Regions from separate parts of the Homo sapiens genome. Here region 1 is linked to region 2. Evidence: fine-mapped expression QTL. A gene starts in region 2. The other region holds a variant in brackets. All regions are shown on one strand. Distances are from middle to middle. Region 1 holds the start of MYH16 (myosin heavy chain 16). Region 2 holds the start of BUD31 (BUD31 spliceosome associated protein).

What was found.
Region 1: its variant is fine-mapped to the expression of BUD31 in whole blood (TOPMed, PIP 0.99).

The regions. Positions count from the first base shown.
Region 1 is chr7:99,267,657-99,278,631 of GRCh38, forward strand. It overlaps MYH16 (myosin heavy chain 16), which reads left to right and starts at 5,183. Exons shown (of 24, transcript NM_001431356.1): 1 at 5,183-5,421; 2 at 5,686-5,767; 3 at 9,883-10,056. The coding sequence starts at 5,687. It overlaps LOC105375421 (a long non-coding RNA gene), which reads right to left. Exons shown (of 4, transcript XR_927798.3): 4 at 10,560-10,769. The variant C/CA (reference allele first, on the strand shown) is at 4,922.
Region 2 is chr7:99,402,548-99,413,522 of GRCh38, forward strand. It overlaps BUD31 (BUD31 spliceosome associated protein), which reads left to right and starts at 6,422. Exons shown (of 6, transcript NM_003910.4): 1 at 6,422-6,698; 2 at 7,487-7,622; 3 at 8,517-8,639. The coding sequence starts at 8,546. PDAP1 (PDGFA associated protein 1) reads right to left here and starts at 6,050. Exons shown (of 6, transcript NM_014891.7): 1 at 5,989-6,050; 2 at 2,315-2,406; 3 at 851-958. The coding sequence starts at 6,001. MIR12119 (microRNA 12119) reads left to right here and starts at 6,625; the gene lies at 6,625-6,717. LOC124901707 (a long non-coding RNA gene) reads left to right here and starts at 9,398. Exons shown (of 2, transcript XR_007060451.1): 1 at 9,398-9,436; 2 at 9,642-9,748. RefSeq lists a silencer at 5,819-5,878 and an enhancer at 6,089-6,478.

The sequences.
Region 1 (10,975 bases), 130 kb before region 2:
CTGAGATGGGACTGACTCAGACAGAGCAACCTCCTGCTCCTGACTCATGGGGCCCGAGTTGCCCTGGGTCTATCCCATTTCCTGGCCCTGCAGCATCCTGGTGGGGTTGTAAAGGCTAGCCAGGCCAGTGGTGCCAGGTGTCCTTCTATAGCCGCCCTGCCCCCCACAACAAACTGCACCCCAACATGATCGCCCCGTGACACAGGAGGTTCACAGGCTTTGCAGTCAGGAGAGTCAGCTCAAAGCCTGCCTCTGTGCCGCCTGGAGCAGATCATTTCTCTCTCCAAGTTCTCACGCATGACGCAGGCTTGGCATGGAAGCTTCCAGCATGCCTGTGCCTCTAATGCATCTGGTCACTCAGCAAACACTTATGGTGCGCCTACTGTGTGCCAGGCATGGTTCCAGGCTCTAGGGACACACAGTGAAGAGAACAGAATGAGTCCCTCACTCCCTGGAGCTTGCTTTATAATACTCTGTGTGTGTGGAATTGTAACACTGCCCTAGAACCTGCTGGAACTGTTTGTTTTGGCATCCTTCACAATTAAGATGTGCTGTAAATAGCTAGATTGACTTGCGGGGGACACTTGAGGTTTGGAGACAGGATCATGGAATAATTGAGCTGGAAAGAATCTTAGAAACCAACGGGCCCCTCCTTTCCCTACCCACCCTTGACAGATGGGAAACTTAAGAAAGCCTGGAGAGGGGGTGGAGGTGGCATGCCCAACTTCACAGAACGAAGCGGGACAGAGCTAGTCGGCATAAGGCCCACCAGTGGCGGTCGTGTGGCCGGGAAAGCCGGAGCTGGTATCTCAGAATCTGGCACAGCTCAGAATCTTGTCCGTTTACCACCTGGCCAAACAGACTGCATCTTGCTGTTGTACAAGGGTTGCATTAGGCACGTCAGTTCCAGGGGAAGGCCCAGGGCTGCTGGGGACAGTTTTGCTCCCTGAGGACTAGGCAGACTGGCAGCAGGAGGAGAACAAAGAACAGGATGGTTCTGACTGCAAATGGTGTTCCTATGTTTGGAGTTGGCTCAGGTGGGCCCCACCCCCAGCCACATGCTTGTTTCAAAGACTAAACCTCAACGCCAATTAATTTTGAAATATCAGGAAATGTTTTATGACATCAAGCCTGATTTCTCTACCTTGCGATGTCTAGCTCCTCGGGGGTCCTTTTGAGGGGCAGGGAGCATTCTTCCTCATCTTTTGCCCACAGTGGCTCAGTTAGGTGCTGTACTCCCTGGCCCCGTGTGGCATTTTGGGTTCCCGCAGCTCAGAGGTCCCAGGGGCCCTGCAGGCAGCATTCTGTCCGGACAGGAGGGGAAGCCTAGGTCCCCCAAAGGGACAGTGACTTAACCACAGTCAGACACACAGCACATCCAAGGAAGGCTGAGGCCAGAATGCAGGTCTCCTGGCACCTTCTATCCTTCTAAAAGTTTCTATTATGTCCTATTTGAAGCCTGTAAAAAGGTGTTACATTATGAAACATAATAATAAAGCCAGCACCCTGTGAACCCACTGAAAAGCCCAGAATGTCAACCTTTCATGTCTTTCCTCTCCCATCCCCTCCCTACCCCCAGGAGTAACCCTGTCTTGAATTTTGACATGAACCATTCTCTTTTTTTTTTTTTTTCTTAAGAGACATGGTCTTGCTCTGTCGCCCAGGCTGGAGTGCAGTGACACGATCACAGCTCACTGTGGCTTCAAACTGTTGGGCTCAAGCGGTTCTCCCACCTCAGCCTCTCGAGTAGCTGGGACTACAGGTGCACACCTCCACATCTGGCTAATTTTTGTATTTTTTATAGAGATGGGGTCTCAATATGTTGCCAAGGCTGTTCTCCAACTCCTGGGCTCAAGTGATCCTCCCACCTCGGCCTCCCAAAGTGTTGGGATTACAGGCATAAGCCACACCACCTGGCTTATTTCCTTACCTTTCAAAAATAGCTTTAGCACATATGCCTGCAGGTCGTGCTTGGTTTTGAGCTTCATGGAAGTATCATACTTGACACACCCTTCCGTGACATTCCTCCATGACGTGCTTTTATCGCTTTGCCATGTTTCTAAGCTTCATCCTCATTGGTACGTGACATTGTCACTGCCACACTGTACTGCAGTGCTGCTGTGAACATCCTTGCTCATGGTCCTGTGCAGGAATTTCTCTAGAACAAAGTTCTCAACCTTGGCTATACATTAGACTCATCTGGGGACACTTTTTTTTTTTTTTTTTTTTTTTTTTGAGACGGAGTCTCACTCTGTTACCCAGGCTGGAGTGCAGTGGCACTGTCTTGGCTCACTGCAACCTCCGCCTCCCGGGTTTAAGCGATTCTCCTGCCTCAGCCTCCCGAGTAACTGGGATTACAGGCACCTGCCAGCATGCCTGGCTAATTTTTTGTATTTTTAATAAAGACGGGGTTTCACCACGTTGGCCAGGCTGGTCTTGAACTCCTGATCTGCCCGTCTCAGCCTCCCAAGGCACTGGGATTACAGGTGTGAGCCATCGTGCCTGGCCTGGGGGGATTTTTAAAACATCAACAGGCAGGGCATGGTGGCTCATGCCTATAATTCCTGCATTTTGGGAGGCTGAGATAGGAAGATCACTTGAGTCCAGTAGTTCAAGGCCAGCCTTGGTTATGGGCAACATAACCAGACCTCATCTCAGAAAAAAAAATTTTTTTTTTTTTTTTTTGAGACTGTCTTGCTCTGTTGCCCAGGCTGGAGTGCAGTGGCGTGATCTCGGCTCACTACAAGCTCCGCCTCCCGGGTTCACGCCATTCTCCTGCCTCAGCCTCCTGAGTAGCTAGGACTACAGGCGCCCGCCACCACGCCCGGCTTTTTGTATTTTTAGTAGATATGGGGTTTCACCATGTTAGCCAGGATGGTCTCGATCTCCTGACCTCATGATCCACCCACCTCGGCCTCCCAAAGTGCTGGGATTACAGGCATGAGCCACTGCGCCCAGCCGAAAAAAATTTTTTTAATTAGCTGGACATGGTGGCACATGCCTGTAATCCCAAGCACTTTGGGAGGCTCAGCCTGGATAACATAGTGAGACCCTATCTCTACAATAATAATAATAAATTTAGCCAGGCATGGTGGCATGTGCCTGTAGTCTCAGCTACTTGGGAGACTGAGATGGGAGGATTGCTTAAGCTCGGGAGGTTGAGGCTGCAGTGATCCGTAATCGCGCCACTGCACTCCAGCAAAACAAACAAACAAAAACCCTTCTTTGATTTAAAACTCCCCCAAGTGGCTGCCATCGGTGACAGCCGGGCTTTTTCAAAGGCGTGCGGTCTTTCCCCAGGTGTTCTTCCGTGCGGGCATCCTGGCCAGGCTTGAGGACATGAGGGACGAGCGTCTGGCCAAGATCATGACGATGCTGCAGTGTCGGCTTCGGGGCTTCCTCATGAGGGTGGAGTTCAAGAAGATGCTGGAACGAAGGTAGCACTCACAAACACCGACAGGAAGGCCCAGAGGAGCCACACGCACTCAGGGCCAGCTCCACTGGCCATGCTGCGTGGTGGGCCAGGGGTGGATGCCAATGTCTTGCTGGCACAAAGAACCCTGTGTGGCTGGCCAGGTGCGGTGGCTCATGCCTGTAATCCCAGCACTTTGGGAGGCTGAGGCGGGCGGATTGCCTGAGGTCGGGAGTTCAAGACCAGCCTGGCCAACATGGTGAAACCCCATCTCTACAAAAAATACAAAAATTAGCTGGGCGTGGTGGTGGGCACCTATAATCCCAGCTACTGGGGAGGTTGAGGCAGGAGAATCGCTTGAATCCGGGAGGCGGAGGTTGCAGTGAGCTGAGATCGTGCCATTGCACTCCAGCCTGGGCGACAGAAGCAAAACTCCGTCTCAAAAAAATAAAAAGAACCCTGTCTCTCAGAGCTGCCGCAACCAAGTTCACACACTGGGTGGCTTCAAACAACAGGAATTTTTAAAAATTTTTTTACTGATACCTAATAGCTATGCATATTTTAGGTTTTATGTGATAACTTGATACATTCATATAATAAAATCAGGATAACTGGGATATCCATCGCCTTAAATTTTATTTTTGAGTGGGGGATGGGGTCTTGCTCTGTAGCCCAGGCTGGAGTACAGTGGTGCGATCATAGCTCACTGCAGCCTCAACCTCTTGGGCTTGAGTGATACTCCCACCTCAGCCTCCTGAGTAGCTAGGACTACAGGTGCACTGTACCACACCTGGCTAATTTTTTTTTTGGTAGAGACAAGGTCTCCCTATGTTGCCTAGGCTCATTTCAAACTCCTGGGCTCAAGCAATCCACCTGCCTCAACTTCTCAAAGTGTTAGGATTACAGGCGTGAGCCACTGCGCCCAGCCCATCTTCCCTCTTTTTATATGGACACCAGTCATTGAATTAGGGTCCACCTTACTCCAGTATGACCACCTCATCTTAACTAGTTACATTTGCTGAGACCCTATTCCCAAACAAGGTTCCCTTCCTAGGTATTGGGTGTTAGGACTTCAACGTATCCTTTCGGAGGACACAGCTTAACCCCTAACAGGAAACAACTAATATAAACCCTCTCTTTATAGTTTCAAGTCATGTCACAGCCTTCCTCTTACTTGATTCACATAATGATGCTATGAGAGGGGCATGGTAGGGCCAGCACCCCCACTTTACAGATGTGGAAACTGAGGTCTGAGAGGTTAAGGAACTGGGGCAGGTTCATGCAGAGCCAGGATTAGAACTCAGCAATTCTCACTCCACATCCCTGCCCTTGGAACCATGTTTTTCAGCCATCTCCCTAACCTGGTAATTTTTAAAGGGCTGGGTCTGGCCAGGTGTGGTAGCCCATACCTGTAATCCCAGCACTTTGAGAAGCCAAGGTGGGAGATCACTTGAGCTCAGGAGTTTGAGACCAGCCTGGGCAACAGGAGATAGGGAGACCCCATCTCTA[C/CA]AAAAAAAAACAGAAACAAAAAATTCGCAGGTGGTGGTGCATGCCTGTAGTCCCAGCTACTTTGGAGGCTGAGGCAGGAGGATTGCTTGAGCCAGGGAGTACAAAGTTCCAGTGAGCCATAATTGCACCATTGCACTCTAGCCTGGGCAACAGAGTGAGACCCTGTCTCAAAAAAAAAAAAGGTAGGTCCATCCCAGATGACCTGTGATTCACTCTATTTCTTTGTGGTCATAGAATTAGTAATGAATTCCTGTTCCCATCAGCAGGCCACCTGCAGCCCTGGACTGAAGGCAGGGATACCAGTTAGGGGCTGATGTGAGGGATCTTGGCCTGATTCAGCCCAGGGCCTTGGTGCACAGGAGGTCCTCAATAAATGGCAGTTGAGTGAAGCTGCAGGGAACAAGAAACGGGCAGATTCCAGCAACTTTGCAGATCCATGGGATTTGGAGACTAATGGGTGATTTCTGGTGGAGGAGGGAAAATGCAGGAGTCAATGACTGGTATGTCTCAGCCTTGTGCCATCTGGGAGGGACCTGGTTCCATCAGGTTTCACCTCAGCTCCCTTATCGTGCTGCTAAGCTCTGACCCCAACGTGAGTCTCCCTGCCGCAGACCACATGGGCAATGCTGGGTCTCGAGAAGGCACTTTGGTGTCTGAACAAGGTAGATCTGCTGGCTTCTATTCCCAGGCCCCACCCCTTCCCCAGGGAAGCCAGGTCCTAACACCTTCATTGTAACCCACTCAACCCTGGATTCTTTTCGCAGAATGGGCCTGAAAGTCATTCAGCAGAACGTGCACAAGTTCCTGCAGCTCCGTTTCTGGGGCTGGTGGAAGCTGTACAACAAGGTGAGGGCCGAGGGGCCAGGCCAGGGGGGACTGCTGCTGCCTATGGGCTGGGGGAGGGCTTGATCCTGGACAGAGATGCCCCTCGGGAGTGAGAGGCTGCAAGAACAGTTTGAAAATGAGGGCACCTTAGAGACAAAAATCTAGCCTCTGTCCAGACAGGGACTAATTCCTCCCTAAGAAAAATCATGGGGCGGGCACAGTGGCTCACACCTGTAATCCCAGCCCTTTGGGAGGCTGAGGCAGGAGGATTGCTTGAGGCCAGGAGTTTGAGACCAGCCTGGGCAACACAGTGAGACCCCATTTCAAAAGAAAAGAAAGGAAGAGAGAGAGGAAAGTAAGAAAGAGAGGAAAGGAAGGGAGAGAGGAAAGGAAGGGAGAGAGGAAAGGAAGACAGAGAGGAAAGGAAGGGAGAGAGGAAAGGAAGACAGAGAGGAAAGGAAGGGAGAGAGGAAAGGAAGGGAGAGATGAAAGGGAGAGAGGAAAGGAAGGGAGAGAGGAAAGGAAAGGAGAGCAAGTGTCTTTCTGCCTTCCATCTCATCCCTCAAAATAAAATCCACTTAAGATGGAGAGCGCCATACCACCCCCACCAAAAAAAGTGAGCTTGATTATTGACTCCTTGCCCCTGGGCATGTTGAGGCATCTTCAACTCCAGTGAGTTCTTGGCTTAGAGCTGGGGGAACCTCAGGAAATGATAAGGTCCGACCTCTCATTTCCTGTTCTTCCGAAACAGCAATGAGTATGGTATGTGAGTCAGCCAGGTGGTGGGACCCACAGAGGTCCCAAGCAGCCAGGCCACCCTCAACCAAGGCAGGAGGCCACCAGCCATGGCACTGCACATGGGTCCAATCATGCCTGTGCTGGGGCCACCATTAAGAGGGACATGTCTCTGGGCACCAGAAGAGGGAGTCAGGCACCAGGCAGCTATGTTCAGGAGAAAGGAGGACCCGCAGAGGGTGGGGACAGGCTCTGAGTCATCTCGGGTGGCCCTGAGTCCTCCATAGCTCACAAGGAAGTTTCTTTACACTCCCCCATGGGAAAGAACTAGCTAACAATCAGCACCCACCACAGATGGAAAGGGAGGAATAGTAAGTTCTGCTTCCCCAAATGTATCCACACACAGGCCGGCCCTGGAGGACCTGGGATTGGAGAGGAATCTAGGTGAGCATGTCTCAAAGGCCAGGCGTTGCCGGTGCCGCCTGGCTTTCCCCGCCTGTTCCATGACTCACCTTTCTTTACATTAATTCACTTTTTTTTTTTTTTTTTTTTTTGAGACGGAGTCTCACTCTGTCACCCAGGCTGGAGTGCAGGGGCACAATCTCAGCTCACTGCAACCTCCGCCTCCCGGGTTCAAGTTATTCTCCTGCCTCAGCCTCCTGAGTATCTGGGATTACATGCATCTGCCACCCTACCTGGCTAATTTTTGTATTTTTAGTAGAGACAGGGTTTTACCATGCTGGCCAGGCTGGTCTCAAACTCCTGACCTCAGGTGATCCACCCGCCTTGGCCTCCCAAAGTGCTGCTGGGATTATAGATGTGAGTCATTGCACCTGGCCTCGCTTTTTTATTTTGGAAAAAAAAAATTTTTTTTTGACACAGGGTCTCACTCTGTTGCCCAGGCTAGAGTGCAGTGATGCAATCATAGCTCACTGCAGCCTCTAACTCCGGGCTCAAGCGATCCTTCCACCTCAGCCTCCCGAATAGCTCAGACTATAGGTGTGTGCCACCATGCCCAGCTAATTTTTAATTTTTGTTTTTGAAGAGACAGGGTCTTGCTATGTTGCCCAGGCTGGTCTCAAACTCCTGGCCTCAAGCAATCCTCCCACCTCAGCCTCCCAAATGGCTGAGATTACAGGTACACAGCGCCCGCCCAGCTCATTTTTAAATTTTTTGTAGAGACAGCGTCTTGCTACATTACCCCAGCCAGTCTCAAACTCCTGATCTCAAGTGATCCTCCCCAGCCTCCAGGAATTACAGGCGTGAGCCACTGTGCCCAGCCACAACTTTTACTTTAAAAGGAAACTTTGTAGTCTTACCTGCTTTAATCTCATCCTAAGCAAATGTTACCCACAAAATTGTGGATTTGAGTTTTCATTTTTTAAATTGCCTATTAAAGTAACTATGTCACAACTCTAATCAAAGGGTGTCTATGCTTGAATGCATCTCACCAGATCCCTTGGTATACAATTAGACTCTGGGAAGACCCAGGCCAATGGCCTTTAAGGTTCCTTCTGAGCAAGACATGGTAGCAACAGCTGTAAACTCCCCTGCTTGTTACTAATTAGACCTGACAGAACAAGGTCCTGTTCTAATTAGTTTTTCTTGTTGTTGAGACAAAATCTTGCTCTGTTGCTCAGGCTGGAGCGCAGGGGCATGATCTGGCTCACTGCAACCTCCGCCTCCCGGATTCAAGCGATTCTCCTGCCTCAACCTCCCGAGTAGCTGGGATTAAGGCGCCTGCCACCACGCCTAATTTTTTGTATTTTTAGTAGAGACGGGATTTCACCATGTTGGCCAGGCTGGTCTTGAACTCCTGACCTCAGGTGATCTGCCCGCCTTGGCCTCCCAAAGTGCTGGGATTACAGGCGTGAGCCACTGCGCCCGGCCTTTTTAGTTTTTGTTGTTGTTGTTCTAAATCCTCTCCTCTTAGTATTCTAACTAAGCTCTAATATTATTTAACAAAGCCAGATAGGCTGGGTCAATGAAAAAACACTTGTAGTAGGTTTCCATTGAATAAAAAGTGCTACACAGCGGCAAAGTATGGTGGTTACTGCAACCTTTTCATGCCAGCTTTGCCACTGTGACATCTCAGATTCTCAACAGCCAGGCTGGCAATGAACGAGGTTTATCTGTTATCTTTCAAAAGAGGCGCAGGCTGTCCCTCCTCCCAAATCCATGTCTAGGGCATTTTCCCTCCTGGGAAATGTATCTATTGACTATGTATCTATTGTATCTATGGTATAATGTTTCTGTGGTTCCCAGGGGACCTGCCCCACCAGCTCTGCTAGGTGCTTTAGGAACCCCAAAGGGATGGGAGGGAGGTCTTTGAGGGGCTTGCAGATGCAGGGCAGAATACAGGTGGTAGGACCGGACGGAGCCTGGCGCTCCAGTGCAGGTGAGAAGGGCCAAGTGCACAGAGAGGTCCCGATGGGTGCTGCGGGTGCAGAGCACGAGCAAATGCTCCCGGCTGAATGGCAAAGAAGGCCCAGCCCTATAGACACAGGTGCAGGGGCACTGGCCATGGTGGGAAGTATCAGCTGACACAGTGCAGGAGGAGGGCAGGGGCTACATTGTGGAAGGCCTGCAAGGCCAAGTCGAGAGGTGTGACTTCATGTTAGACAGAAGATGAAAGGAGTGAGAGAGAGAGAGGGAGAGTAAGAGATGGAGAGAGACACACACACATAGAGAAAAACAAAGAGAAAGACACAGAAAATGAGAGAGAGAGAGACAGCACAACAGAGAGACAGGCAGAGAGAGAGACAGAGATAAGAGAGACAGAGATGAGACAGAGAAAGAGACAGAGAGAAAGACAGAAACAGAAACACGGAGAGAGAAAAAGAGAGAGCAGAGCAACAGAGACTGAGAAGAGAGGCAGAGATAGGAATGGCATGAGAGAGACACAGAGAGAGAGAGAGACACAGAGAGAGAGAGAGAAACAGTGGGCGAGTGAGAGAGACAGCAAAATGAGGCAGACAGAGACAGAAACAGAGAGCCAGAGGTGGGAGGACTCAGTAGGGAAGGAAGGAGGGAGGGGACCCCAAGGCTGTGCATTTCACTGGGGCTCCTGGTGTCTACACAACATGCAGAACAGATGTAAGCCTTGGGTCACCCAGATGCCGAGGACACCTAACTCCATGTCCCTCAGGATTAAAGAGCATCCTAAGAATTGTCCTAGGGGAGGATGGGCCTTCTCTGTTGAGGCCAGGGATGCTTTACACAAGGAGCTCAGCCTGGTGGCATCTGTGGAGAGGGACCCCACCCGCAGAGCTACAGCAAGAGCTGCTTCCCACCACAGTGGTGCTGTGAGGTCACGCCTGAGGCAGAGACTCCACAGCCCTCCGTCTACCCCCCAGCAAACCCCATTCTCCTAACACTCTTTGGTGTTGCTCATTGCCCAGGTCAAGCCACTCCTGAATGTGGCTCGGCAAGAAGAGGAGATGAAGGCCAAGGAGGAGGAGCTCAGGAAAGCCATGGCCCAAACCCAGGAGTTGGTAAACAAGGTCAAGGAACTGGAGGAGAAGACAGCCACGCTCAGCCAGGAGAAGAATGACCTCACCATCCAGCTGCAGGCTGTACGTGGGGTCCCCAGGGAGAAGGGTGGGAAACCCATACAGCCTGGACCCTGGGAGGGAGGAAGGGCGAGCTCTTCCAAAAACCCATGTCCCTCCAGACCACGGGAAATTCTCCAGCATACAAAGTCACCCTCGACCCAACTTCCAAAAAGTCTCCATCCAATTCGTGTGTGTGTGTGTGTGTGTGTGTGTGTGTGTGTGTGTGAGAGAGAGAGAGAGAGAGAGACAGACAGACAGACAGACAGACAGACAGACAGACAGACAGCGACATGGTCTTGCTGTGTTGCCCAGGCTGGAGTGAAGTGGCTCGATCACAGCTCACAGCAGCCTCCATCTCCTGGACACAGGTGATCCTCCCACCTCAGCCTCCCGAGTAGCTGGGACTACACCACCATGCCTGGCTAATTTTTTGTAGAGACAGGGTCTTACTATGTTGCCCAGGCTTGTCTCAAACTCCCAGCCCCAAGTGATCCTCCTATTTCGGCCTCCCAAAGTGCTGGGATTACAGGTGTAAGCCCCTGTGCCCAGCCTCCATCAAATTCTTATTTGCACACAGCAGCAGGCTGGGCACACACAGCTACAGGACCCACCTGCAGGGAAAGTCCAGGGATGGTGGCCACGAGATGGGGTGAGAACAGCATCCCCTGGAGTCAGGGCTGGGCTCTGCCATACAAACTTGGCAACTTACCCACTCCAAGCCTTGTTTTCCTCACCTGTCCAGGGAAACACAGCAAGAAAGAATAAACGATGTCATTTCTGTAGGGCGCCTGACTAAATGTCCTGCAGTGAATTCACTGCTGGGGTCCTTCTGGTTTGCAAAGCTTTTCCTATTCCTTCCCTGATTTTACTCTCACAGCCGCCCTGTAAGACACTCGATTTTCACGTGCATCGTACAGGGTAGAAAACTCAGTTTGGCAGA
Region 2 (10,975 bases):
TGGGTGACAGAACGAGACCCTGTCTCAAAAAAAAAAAAAAAAAAAAAAAAAGGGGGCTGGGCTAGTGGCTCACGCTTATAATCCCAGTACTTTGGGAGGCTGATGCGGGTGGATCACGAGGTCAGGAGATGGAGACCATTCTGGCTAACACAGTGAAACCCTGTCTCTACTAAAAATACAAAAAATTAGCCCGGCGTGGTGGCAGGCGCCTGTAGTCCCAGCTACTCAGGAGGCTGGGGCAGAAGCGCTTGAACCTGGGAGGCGGAAGTTGCAGTGAGCTGAGATCGTGCCACTGCACTCCAGCCTCAGTGACAAAGCGACACTTCATCTCAAAAAAAAAAAAAAAAAAGAAAAGAAAAGAAAAGAAATGCCAACCCCTTCAACAGCTACACAGGAGGTGCCCTTGCCAATTCTCCTCCTGCATCTGGACCACTCCGCTCCTTACCCACTAACTCACAGCTACACTGGCCCCCTTCTGGTCCTTGAACATGCCAAGCTTATTCCCACCACAGGACCTTTGCACTTGCTAATCCAGTTTCTCAATTGCTCTGCACGCCAATTTTCACATAGCTGGCTGCATCTTGTTTTTTCAGATCTCAGTTTATAAGTTGCTTCACCACCACAACACTTTTCCAAGTCCCCTCAATCACAGTCTGTTTTGTTAGTAACACTTCTCATTACTTGAAATGACACTGTCTGTTTACTTCTTTGTTGTATCTCCCGTAGTGTAAACCCTCAAGAGCAAGGACGTTGTCTGCATCTACCTTTGGGACTAGTACTAAACGGTCACTCAACGTTTGTTTGTTGAATGAATGAGTCCAGGCTCTAGGCCCTCAAAAGAACTCAGTACCTGGTAGTCATCTTCTTCATCCTCACTCTCATCTGAGTCTAGAGATTTCTTCTCCTTTTTGGGGTCACCTGCAGCCCCATCTCCACCTTCTTTTTGCTCCTCTTCTTCCTGTTTCAGAAATGGACAACCTGCAGAATCAAAAATGCAAAACAAATCCCCAAGACTGTGACCCTATCACCCCCCAGACTGTGGATCTTGAGAAATCAAGCCTCTGGAAGGCTGGAACCAAGGATGACAAGGGTCCTACTGTGACCCTGGCCCCCAGGGAATGGGACCTGGGCCAGACACAGGCAGCCTATGCACTTAGCACCACAGCTTAGAGGCCATTCCCATAGTCCAGGAAGCCCCTCACACAGCCACAGAAGGCCCTGCTCCCCTTCCTAACGCAGCCACCTCAGCAGCCAGGGTGAGAAGCTTGTTTCCTGGGGTCAGAAGGACTCAGCCACCAGGCTGAAAACCACCATCCTACTCAGCTCCCACCTGCCACATGCAGCTGCCAAATCATGCTGGCATTCCCAGGCGAGTCCTCTCCGCACTCCACTCCCACTCCATGGCAAGTCATCCCCCCGACCCACCCACACAGGTGACCTCCTGCACCAGCTCCCCAGAACAACACCTCGGAAGGCTGCTTCCCTCCACCTTTCTTGCCTTCCCACCAAAAATGTCCCTTATAGGAACCTCATGTCCCTTCACCTCTTGGCACCTGCCCACACATTCTCCATGTCCTGCTCAGCTGCTGGCTCCCCCAAGGACCCCTCCCAGACCCCACAGCTGGATGTGGCCTTTCCCTTCTTGAGACTCCTGGGGTACGTCACAGCTGTGTACCCATCTGGCCCTGACTGCTCCCTTAGGCCCTTGATCCAGGCATCAATCTAATGATATGGTAAGATGCAGATGCTGACGATGGGAATGTATTCTATTTCCTAACGGTGGCCTGGACAATGTACTATGGGAGCAGAGGAGAGGGAACTACTAAATCAGCTCTGGCTGGAGGTGAGGCATGAGTCACAGAGGAGGAGAGGCTAAACAACGTCTCCAGGGATGGAGAGCATGCTGATGCTGGGGGTGTGGGAAGGCAGGGCATATGTCATGTGCAGTGTGGCAAATCATCCTGTGTGGCTGCAGCAGACAAGCAGGGGTGCTGGGAGCTCGAGCTGTGAATGGACAGGTCCTGCAGGAGGGAGATCCTCCTGAAAGTAGGTGCACAAGACCAAGAACAGGGCCCCACTAAAGCAGCTGCTGCAGAGCAGCCACAGTTCTTTCTAACCCATCCAGGCAGAGGATGCCCACGCCCTGACTGTCATTGGTTGTTCTGAGACTCACACCTGGGGCTCACTGCCCGCCCGACCCCCACGTGCTGGCTTGTCCCTGCGAATGGGTAGTCCTTGCCTGGCCTCTCTATGAACCAAATTGGCAAAGCGCCACCCTGGGCCACTGGCGTGGCCTGGACAGGCACGTACTCACCCTGGCCTTCTGCTTCTCAGCCTGCAGCTGCGCGTCGATCTCCTCAGGGCTTGTATACTGCCTCGCCCGGCCTTTGTGGCCTCCCTTTCTTCCTGCAGAGACCCGCAGTTTAGGTGAGCGGAAGCAGCTGCCTTGACTGCTCTGACCCCCAGAGGGCTGTGTCCTGCTTGGAGTACTCTCATCGGAGGCCTCACCTACCCCTCACCCAGCACCACCCAAACCGACACCTCCGCCACCCTCATGTGTTCAAAGGCACGCAGGAAGCAACTCGTGACCATCTGATGCATCACCAAACTGTGTACTAAATGCTGGCTCCTACACAGAAGACCGGAGGGGAGAACATGGCGGACGGTGCACTGCAATGACTTGCTACATCCCCTGGTCCCTTACAATCCAAGCATAGTGGACTCAGATGCAACCACAGAAACATGTACCACTTACATCCCTGCCGTCACTATAAGGGCTTTTTACACGATGTTCTGTCACAGCCAGGGGCACTTTTTTTTTTTTTTTTTTGAGACGGAGTCTCGCTCTGTCACCCAAGCTGGAGTGCAGTGGCGCAATCTCGGCTCACCGCAACCTCCACCACCCTGGTTGAAGTGATTCTCCTGCCTCAGCCTCCCGAGTAGCTGGGACTACAGGCGTGCACCACTATGCCCAGCTTATTTATTTATTTTTAGTAGAGATGGGGTTTAACCATGTTGGTTGGCTAGAATGGTCTTGATCTCTTGACCTCGTGATCTGCCCACCTCAGCCTCCCAAAGTGCTGGGATTACAGGTGTGAGCCACCGCGCCCAGCCAGCCAGGGGCACAGTTGATCCTCGGAACAAACCTATGGTACAGGGGTGATAGCTGGTCCCATTTCATAGACCAGGAGACTTAGACCAAAGCAGACTGCGAAACACCACGAAGTTTAGAGTCCAACTCCCAGGTTCTACGCTTACTGGCTTGATGACTTTGGGCAGGTATTTAACCTCTCAGTCTCAGTTTCCTCATCTGTGTCCCTACCTTACAGGGTTGTCACAAAGATAGATGAATTAATCAATATACAGAAAGCTGCTGGAACAGTGCCTGCTACTGAATAAGCACTACAAAAATGTTCGCTAATATCCAGGCACAGTGGCTGATGCCTGTAATCCCAGCACTTTGGGAGGCCAAGGCGGGCAGATCACTTGAGGCCAGTTCAAGACCAGCCTGGTCAACATGGTGAAACCCCCTCACTACTAAAAATACAAAAATTAGCTGGGCATGGTGTCACATGTTTGTAATCCCAGCTACTTGGGAGGCTGAGAAAGGAGAATCGCTTGAACCCAGGAGGCAGAGGTTGCAGTAGCCGAGATTGAGCCACTGCACTCCAGCCTGGGCCACAGAGCGAGACTCCGTCTCAAAAAAATAAAAAAATCGCTGTTCGTTACTTTTCCCTCTAATCTAGTATTTGGTGGAAAAACAACAACAAAAGCACCACTGAGCACATAAGCAATTTACTGCAGATGTTGGAAACACAATAAAATACCTTGTGTTCACCTTAGTAGTATGGCAAAAAGAGAATACTTAAGGGAAAAAAAAGAAACCCAAACCTACAGGCAAAAACTTTGTGCTTAGACTAAGAAATGACTGGCAAAGTACAGATGAAAACAAACCTGACTACACAGTCTAAAAGTTAAAAATGTGACTAGCAGTTAAAGTGTCAGTTTTATAGTCTGACCCTCTTCAGCCAGAACACCAGGCTGACCCTTGCTTAAGCCATCAGCCAGTTTTAAAGCAAGGTGGCATCCCCCTCTGCTGGTCCCCAAGTATGCAAGGGTGGCTGTGGCCTCAACTTCCACACAGGAAGCTGAGGCCCACCTGATTTCCATAGTCTGTCTCTGTGAGCAGAGACTCTGTAATCAGCCAGAGTTGCTCTGCACTCCAGAGGCGGTAGCAGAGATACTGGCCTCCTCTGATTCCTTACAGCAGCTGCAAAGCCATAATTGGGCTGCTAAAGATCACACCACCCATTTTTAATGACTACCTAGGTTCCCAGGGGTGTCTAAGTCTATGCTTATTAAAGTCCTATTGTGAGAGAGCAAGTGTGCCAAGAAAAAAACCAACACCCTTTCTTGCTCTCTTAATACACCAGGCAACAGTAACAACTCAAAATTGATTACTATAGGCTCTCCTCTCATGCACTTGGCTATGGGACCCTGACCTTAGCTTGGTCCACAGTAATTTTATAGTAGACTCTTCAAGACTTTAAAAAACGATTTGCACTTAACATAATGGAAACAAGCGTTGGTCCTTTGCTCTTAGGGAGTTTGATACTTTTAACACCTTCACGGTTTTTTGTGGTTTTCAGATTAACCCAAGAAAATGTAAACCTTGTCTACCCCAAAAAGCTTTTCACAAGCCCAAAGACCATTTAGCTATGAATTCATATTTAAGGTTTTATCGTTGTAACCTCCAACCTTTACCCAAAGTATCCATTAAGTAAAACTTCGGAGGGAGGATGGCTCATTCAGCAACCTCCTTTTACAGATGAAGGGACTGGGGAACAATAGCAGAGAGACTTTTCCAGCCACAGAATAAATCAGTAGAGAGCTAGGTTTAAACACATTTAGCTCTGTAATGCCCAATTATCTCTGGAGTCAGGAAGCGATTTAGGTTTGAAAACGCTACAGGCAGATGTTTCTGTGGGTTGAGTGCATTAACCAATATAACACATGAGCTACCAACACAAATATATTTGTTCTGTGCCAGGAGGTGGCCAGGCACTTTATGAGCGCTATAATTTTACCACCCCGGCCCCAATTCAACAAGCTAAGGATTAGCCCAGTGTTTCAGATGAGGAAGAGGTTAACTTGTTCAGGGCCACAGAATTAGACGTGACATAGCTGGGATTCAAACTGGGGACTATCGATTCTAAAGGGGGAAACAGGATAGAGAACGGGCTAGAAGATAGAGGACGGGCTACAATGGACTGGGCAGTCATGAACCTACTTACAAGATCAAGAGCTGGCAAAGCCTTAAAAATAAGAATAGTTACTGCTTCACTGGGCACTTTTAACGACTGCCTGGCACTGTACTGCGCACTCCACGTGGATTACCTAGTTGAAGCCTCCCAACAGTACTAAGAGGTAGGTACAATCGTTATTCCCATTGGCAAATGAGAAAACGGAGACACAGGAGGTGGAGCGACTGGCTCAAAGGAACACACCGAGCCGCTACCGAACGGGGGAGTCGAAACCAGGTCTGGAAGGCTCATGGGCATCTCCTTAAGTCCTCCTAGGCAGGCCTGGCTGAACCGAAGCCAGAAAAAGCCCACGTTTTACGCGAGAGGCAGGCGGGCCCGGCACAAGCGCGGGACGCGGTGACTCAGTTCCTAGCCAGCCAAAGAGTGGGATAAATTCCAGAACCCCTAGACCCGGAGAAGCGCATCCTAGATCCGGCTTTCTAGGCCGGCGAGGACCCAGAGCTTCCGAAACTCCTCAGACCACTGACGGAGTGACTCTGGGACACCACAGTCCTCAGTTTCCCCATCGGGACAATTGGGCGTCGAGGCCCAGGCCTGGCTCTCAGCCGGTGCGGACAGCCTCCCTCTGCGCTGCTCTCAGAGACGCGCACGGGCTGAGGGGACAGCGGAAGCCGGACCTGGGCCGCCCCTCCAGGCCTGCGGGCCACCGGCGCCCGCCCCTCACCTCCTTTAGGCATTGCGGCTCCGGCGGCTGCGGCGGCGGCGGCGGCGCCTCGAACTGACACCGGAACCGGAAATAGCTTGGGCTCGACTTCTTCCTCCTGGGCCAGCCGCCGCCGCCGCTTCAGTGGCCGCAGTGGCCGCAAGGACCCGGACCTCAGGGAGGCCTCCGCACGAAGTCGGACCGTCCTGCGCGCCGCCTAAGTCCAGGCTTGCCCGTCTGCTGCCAGGCAACAACGCCCCTAGTCTCTCCGTTCGGGAAGACGCGTGGCCCTGCCTGCCACCCACCGGAAGTGAGGGCAAATGGCAACAGCGGCTCTGGAATTCTATACAGGCATTGCTGAGGACACCTAAGATGACGCAATCTCCGCGCGGGTAGGGCGGGGCTCCGCAAGGACCTCATGCCTTAGAGATCGCCTGAAGAGCGGAAGCCTTCTGTCGAGAAGCAGCTACCCAAGCTCCAGGAGCTTCCGGTATGTGTTTTCCCTCTGTTCTCGATTACCTTGGCAACGGCTGAGGCGGGAGACCGGTGGTCTGCACCGTCCTGGAGGGAGATATGAGTGGCTGGACTCTCAGCCAGCCACTGGGATGTGTTCGGGCTTTGGACCTTGAGGCCGGAGAGAGCTCCCGAGAGGAGGCGGCGCCACGTTCGTTCTTCTGAGGGGACGGTAGATTTGGGGGTTTTCCTCTAGGATTCTCGCGCCGTTTCCTCTGGTAGGAACGTCTTCTGTGTTCTGATTGTTTTTCTAAGCTGGGTTCAGATGCTGTCCTTTTTATGAGTTTTCCCTACAATCCTGCACTATCTTCCTTCGCTCCTCCTCGCCTCCTTCCCCTAGCGCCCCAATCTCTCTTACACCTCCCGGCACATCTTTCTTCTCGATCTGATTACCTCCTACGTCCTCTTTCTCCTCGATCTGGTTACCGCCTACCATTTTCACCTCCGAGAGGCCTCTTCTGACTTCCAGGCTGGATCAGGGCCCTCGAATTTCCCTGGGTCGTAGAAAAGCGATCATTCTCTTGTCACAGACTATGCGCCTTGGGGCCGAGACCAGAATTCACCTATTTTTAGCTTCAGCGTAGGGGAGACTAGTGCGAAGACCACTGATTTGGGAGTCAGGAGCCCTCCAGAGTCAGGTTTTGCAAATTCTCAGCTGTGTGACCCTGATTCTACCTTATAGAGTTTGATTCCTCCTCTATATGGTTGTTTTAGAGAGTTCATGAGAGGAGGCTCTGTGGGCGGGGGGGGGGTGGGTCTTTGTAAAGTGTCAGTACAGAAGGGAGTGACTGAATGAATTTGAGAGAGATGAATCTGTTATGCTGAAAGGTAAATACTTAACCTGGGTTCTCTCTGGCAGCAAGGAAATGCTGTGTGGTTTGAAAAACGCTTTGCTATTTAGATTGGGATCGGCCTCTTGTATGGGAACTACCTGACTTTATGTAATATGTTGTTTGGTGTGAAAGAGACCTTGGCAATCAGCCAATCCACTGCCCTCATTTTACAGAAGAAACAGGACCAGAGAGGGAAGGTGACCTGAAAGTCACAGAATAATTTTTTAGAGCTGAACAAGAATCCAAGCCTGCAACTGCAGAGACGAGAGATCTTTCTGCTGTCTATACTCTTGGAAAGCACATCCTAAGGTACTTTGATTTTACAGTCATCTTTCCCTTTTTATTTTATGTTTTGTTTTGTTTTGTTTGTTATTGAGACATGGTCTCACTCCGTCACTTAGGCTGGAGTGCAGTAGTGTGAACATGGCTAACTGAAGACTTTCAACCTCCTGGGCTCAAGTGATCCTCTTGCCTCAGCCTTCCGTGTAGCTCAGACCACAGGCACCCACCACCATGCTCAGTTAATTTTTTTGATTTTTTTTTTTTTTTGGTAGAGATAGGGTTTCACCTCATTGCTCAGACTGGTCTCAAATTCCTGGGCTCAAGTGATCCTCCCATCTCAGCCTCCCAAGGTGCTGGCCAAGACCAGAATTACAGGCATGAGCCACCGTGCCTGACCTTCCATCTTTGCCTTTTTAAATACTCACCCCCATGGCTCCCCGAGTCACAGCCCTCCTTATACTCTATTGTAATTGCTTTTTCTCTTGTCTGTCTCTTTGCTAAAATGTCACCTTCTAAGGGGCAAAGGCTTAACTTTTGTTCTGTGTTCCCAACATCCAGTATAGGGTTAAGCTTTTAGTTGAAGTTAGCTAATGACAACAGCAAATGTCTCTTAGGCACACATTATACACCAGGCATGATAGATACAATTCTAATGAAGTCTTTGCAATGACCACATAAGGTAGCTTCCATTATCCCCATTTTACAGATGAGGAAACAGAGGCTTAGGAAGGTTAAGTACCTTTCTGAAGATCACAGCGGGTAAGTAGCAGAGCCAGGATTTGAACACAGTCTGGGTGCTGAGCCCTGTCCCATAGCTGTGACCCTATGCTGACTCAAGGAAGTCAGCCTGTACCGAAATAATGGCTGGCAAAGGCCTTTGGGGATTTGAGACTCAGAAACCAATTCATTTTTTTCCCCCAGATCTTTGCAGATTATCCTGTGGAAGGAAAATGCCTAAAGTCAAAAGAAGCCGGAAAGCACCCCCAGATGGCTGGGAGTTGATTGAGCCAACACTGGATGAATTAGATCAAAAGATGAGAGAAGGTGAGTAGGGGAGTTCCTGTCTGGGTGGGCTGGGTCCAAGGGTCACAGGCTTAGATGCCCCCAGGGGACAGGCATAAATGCAAATATAAAAAGAGAGTGGTCTACTAACACTGACATGTTGTGTTTGCTTATGAACTTGGGGAAATACTGTAAGTGCCCGAAAATAAGATAACATTAATGAAAAGGTCCTCAGAAAAGGTGTTTTTTTTTGTTTTTGTTTTTGCCAACTCGAATATAAAAGGTTATGAAATATAGATCAAATAGTCTACCTATAGTTATTTACTATTTTGGTTAGATATATATTTAAAATCATACAAAATATATTTACTTGGAAGTGCTATTCCTTTTCAGTATCATCGATTAGTCTTTGCCGCATCTGTTTTCTGTCACTTCCTTGTAAATGGCGTGTGATCCTGCTTTGTGAACCCGTGTCCTATGCTGTCTTTGGAAATTTTATCTGAAGCCACAAGCATCTGTTGGCCTTATATGATCACAGTGTGGCCACTTACCAATTGACTTTTTTATTTTTATTTTTTGAGTTGGAGTCTTGCTCTGTCTTCCAGGCTGCAGTGCAGTGGCGTGATCTCGGCTCACTGCAACCTCTGCCTCCCGTGTTCAAGTGATTTTCCTGCCTCTCAGCCTCTCGAGTAATTTGGATTACAGGCATGCGCCACCATGCCCGGCTAATTTTTGTATTTTTAGTAGAGATGGGTTTCTCCATGTTGGCCAGGCTGGTCTCGAACTCCTGGCCTCAAGTGATCCACCCACCTCGGCCTCCCAAAGTGATGGGATTACAGGTATGAGCCACTACACCCAGCTGAAGTTACTTTTTAAAGTAGCTTTTGAAATGCTTGCTTGTAACTAACCTAATCATGGTTATTATGAGGTCGTACCTCCAGCAGTAATTACTAAATTAAATCAATGTTAAATTACTTTGCCCCTTTTTAAAAAAACTGTTCGTACCAGATAACTTCTATTAAATACTCAGTACTTGTTTTGCAGTTTAGATTTGGATGGGCCTATTGCAGTAATCACGGTCATTTTGGGCTGAGAGATGTCTTCCCGAAACAGCTCTTTATCAAAATAAAGGAAATGGGAGCATGCTGGAATAGAAGAGATTTTGCAAGTCCTTGAAAGTAAATTAACTTCATCTTCTAAAGGGTGACTTTTGAGGGAAGGAGGAACCCTACTTTGTGTTTAGATATTCTTTACCTCCAGACAGAAGTATTCTTTGTTCTGTTTTCTTTTTGTTTTTGTTTTGAGACAAGGTCTCACTTTGTTGCCCAGGCTGGAGTGCAGTGGTTCAATCACAGCTCACTGAAGCCTCCACCTCCCAGGCTCAGGTGTTCCTCCCACCTCAGTCTCCCAGGCAGCTGGGACTACAGGCATCCACTGCCACGCTTGGCTAAGTTTTCTTTTCTTTTTTTTCTTTTTTTTTTTTTTGAGACGGAGTCTCGCTCTGTCACCCAGGCTGGAGTGCAGTGGCGCGATCTCCGCTCACTGCAAGCTCCGCCTCCCAGGTCCACACCATTCTCCTGCCTCAGCCTCTGGAGTAGCTGGGACTACAGGCGCCCGCCACCATGCCCAGCTAATTTTTTTTTTTTTTTTGTATTTTTAGTAGAGACGGGGTTTCACCATGTTAGCCAGGATGGTCTCGATCGCCTGACCTTGTGATCCACCCGCCTCAGGCTCCCAAAGTGCTAGGATTACAAGCATGAGCCACCGCGCCCGACCAACGCTTGGCTAATTTTTTGTAGAGATGGGGGTGTGTTAGTCCATTTTCACGCTACTGATAGACATACCTGAGACTGGGCAATTTACGAAAGAACGAGATCTAATGGACTTACCGTTCCATGTGGTTGGAGAGGCCTCACCATCATGGCAGAGGCCAAGGAGGAGCAAGTCACGTCTTAACATGTGTACCTGCTGAATCTTTACTACCTGCTTTTCTGCTTGGATCACAGCATTCTGTTTGTTGAGCTGAATTGTAATTCCTAGGTAATAGAATGGCTTAAAAGCTGGAGACAGGGAGGGATAGTCTTCTTGACCACTCTTCGCCCTTCTGTTCTTCCCTAAAAACTGAGGAGGTCATAGACAAAGATGAACTTGTGACTGCTGAGAGAGAGAGAACTGCCTTGCGGCAAGTATGAGTGCCACCTGATCCTGCGTGTGTTGAAGGAGCAGCTTCTGCTGTGGCTACTTCCCTCAGAACCTGTAGACTGGTCTAGTTTATTTAGCTTTTCCTCAGCCCTAAAGGACTTTGGCTGGGAGATGAAATTAGAAGTGCCTTCAAGATGATTAGGATGCCCATCTGTGGGCCTAGAATTATCTTGATT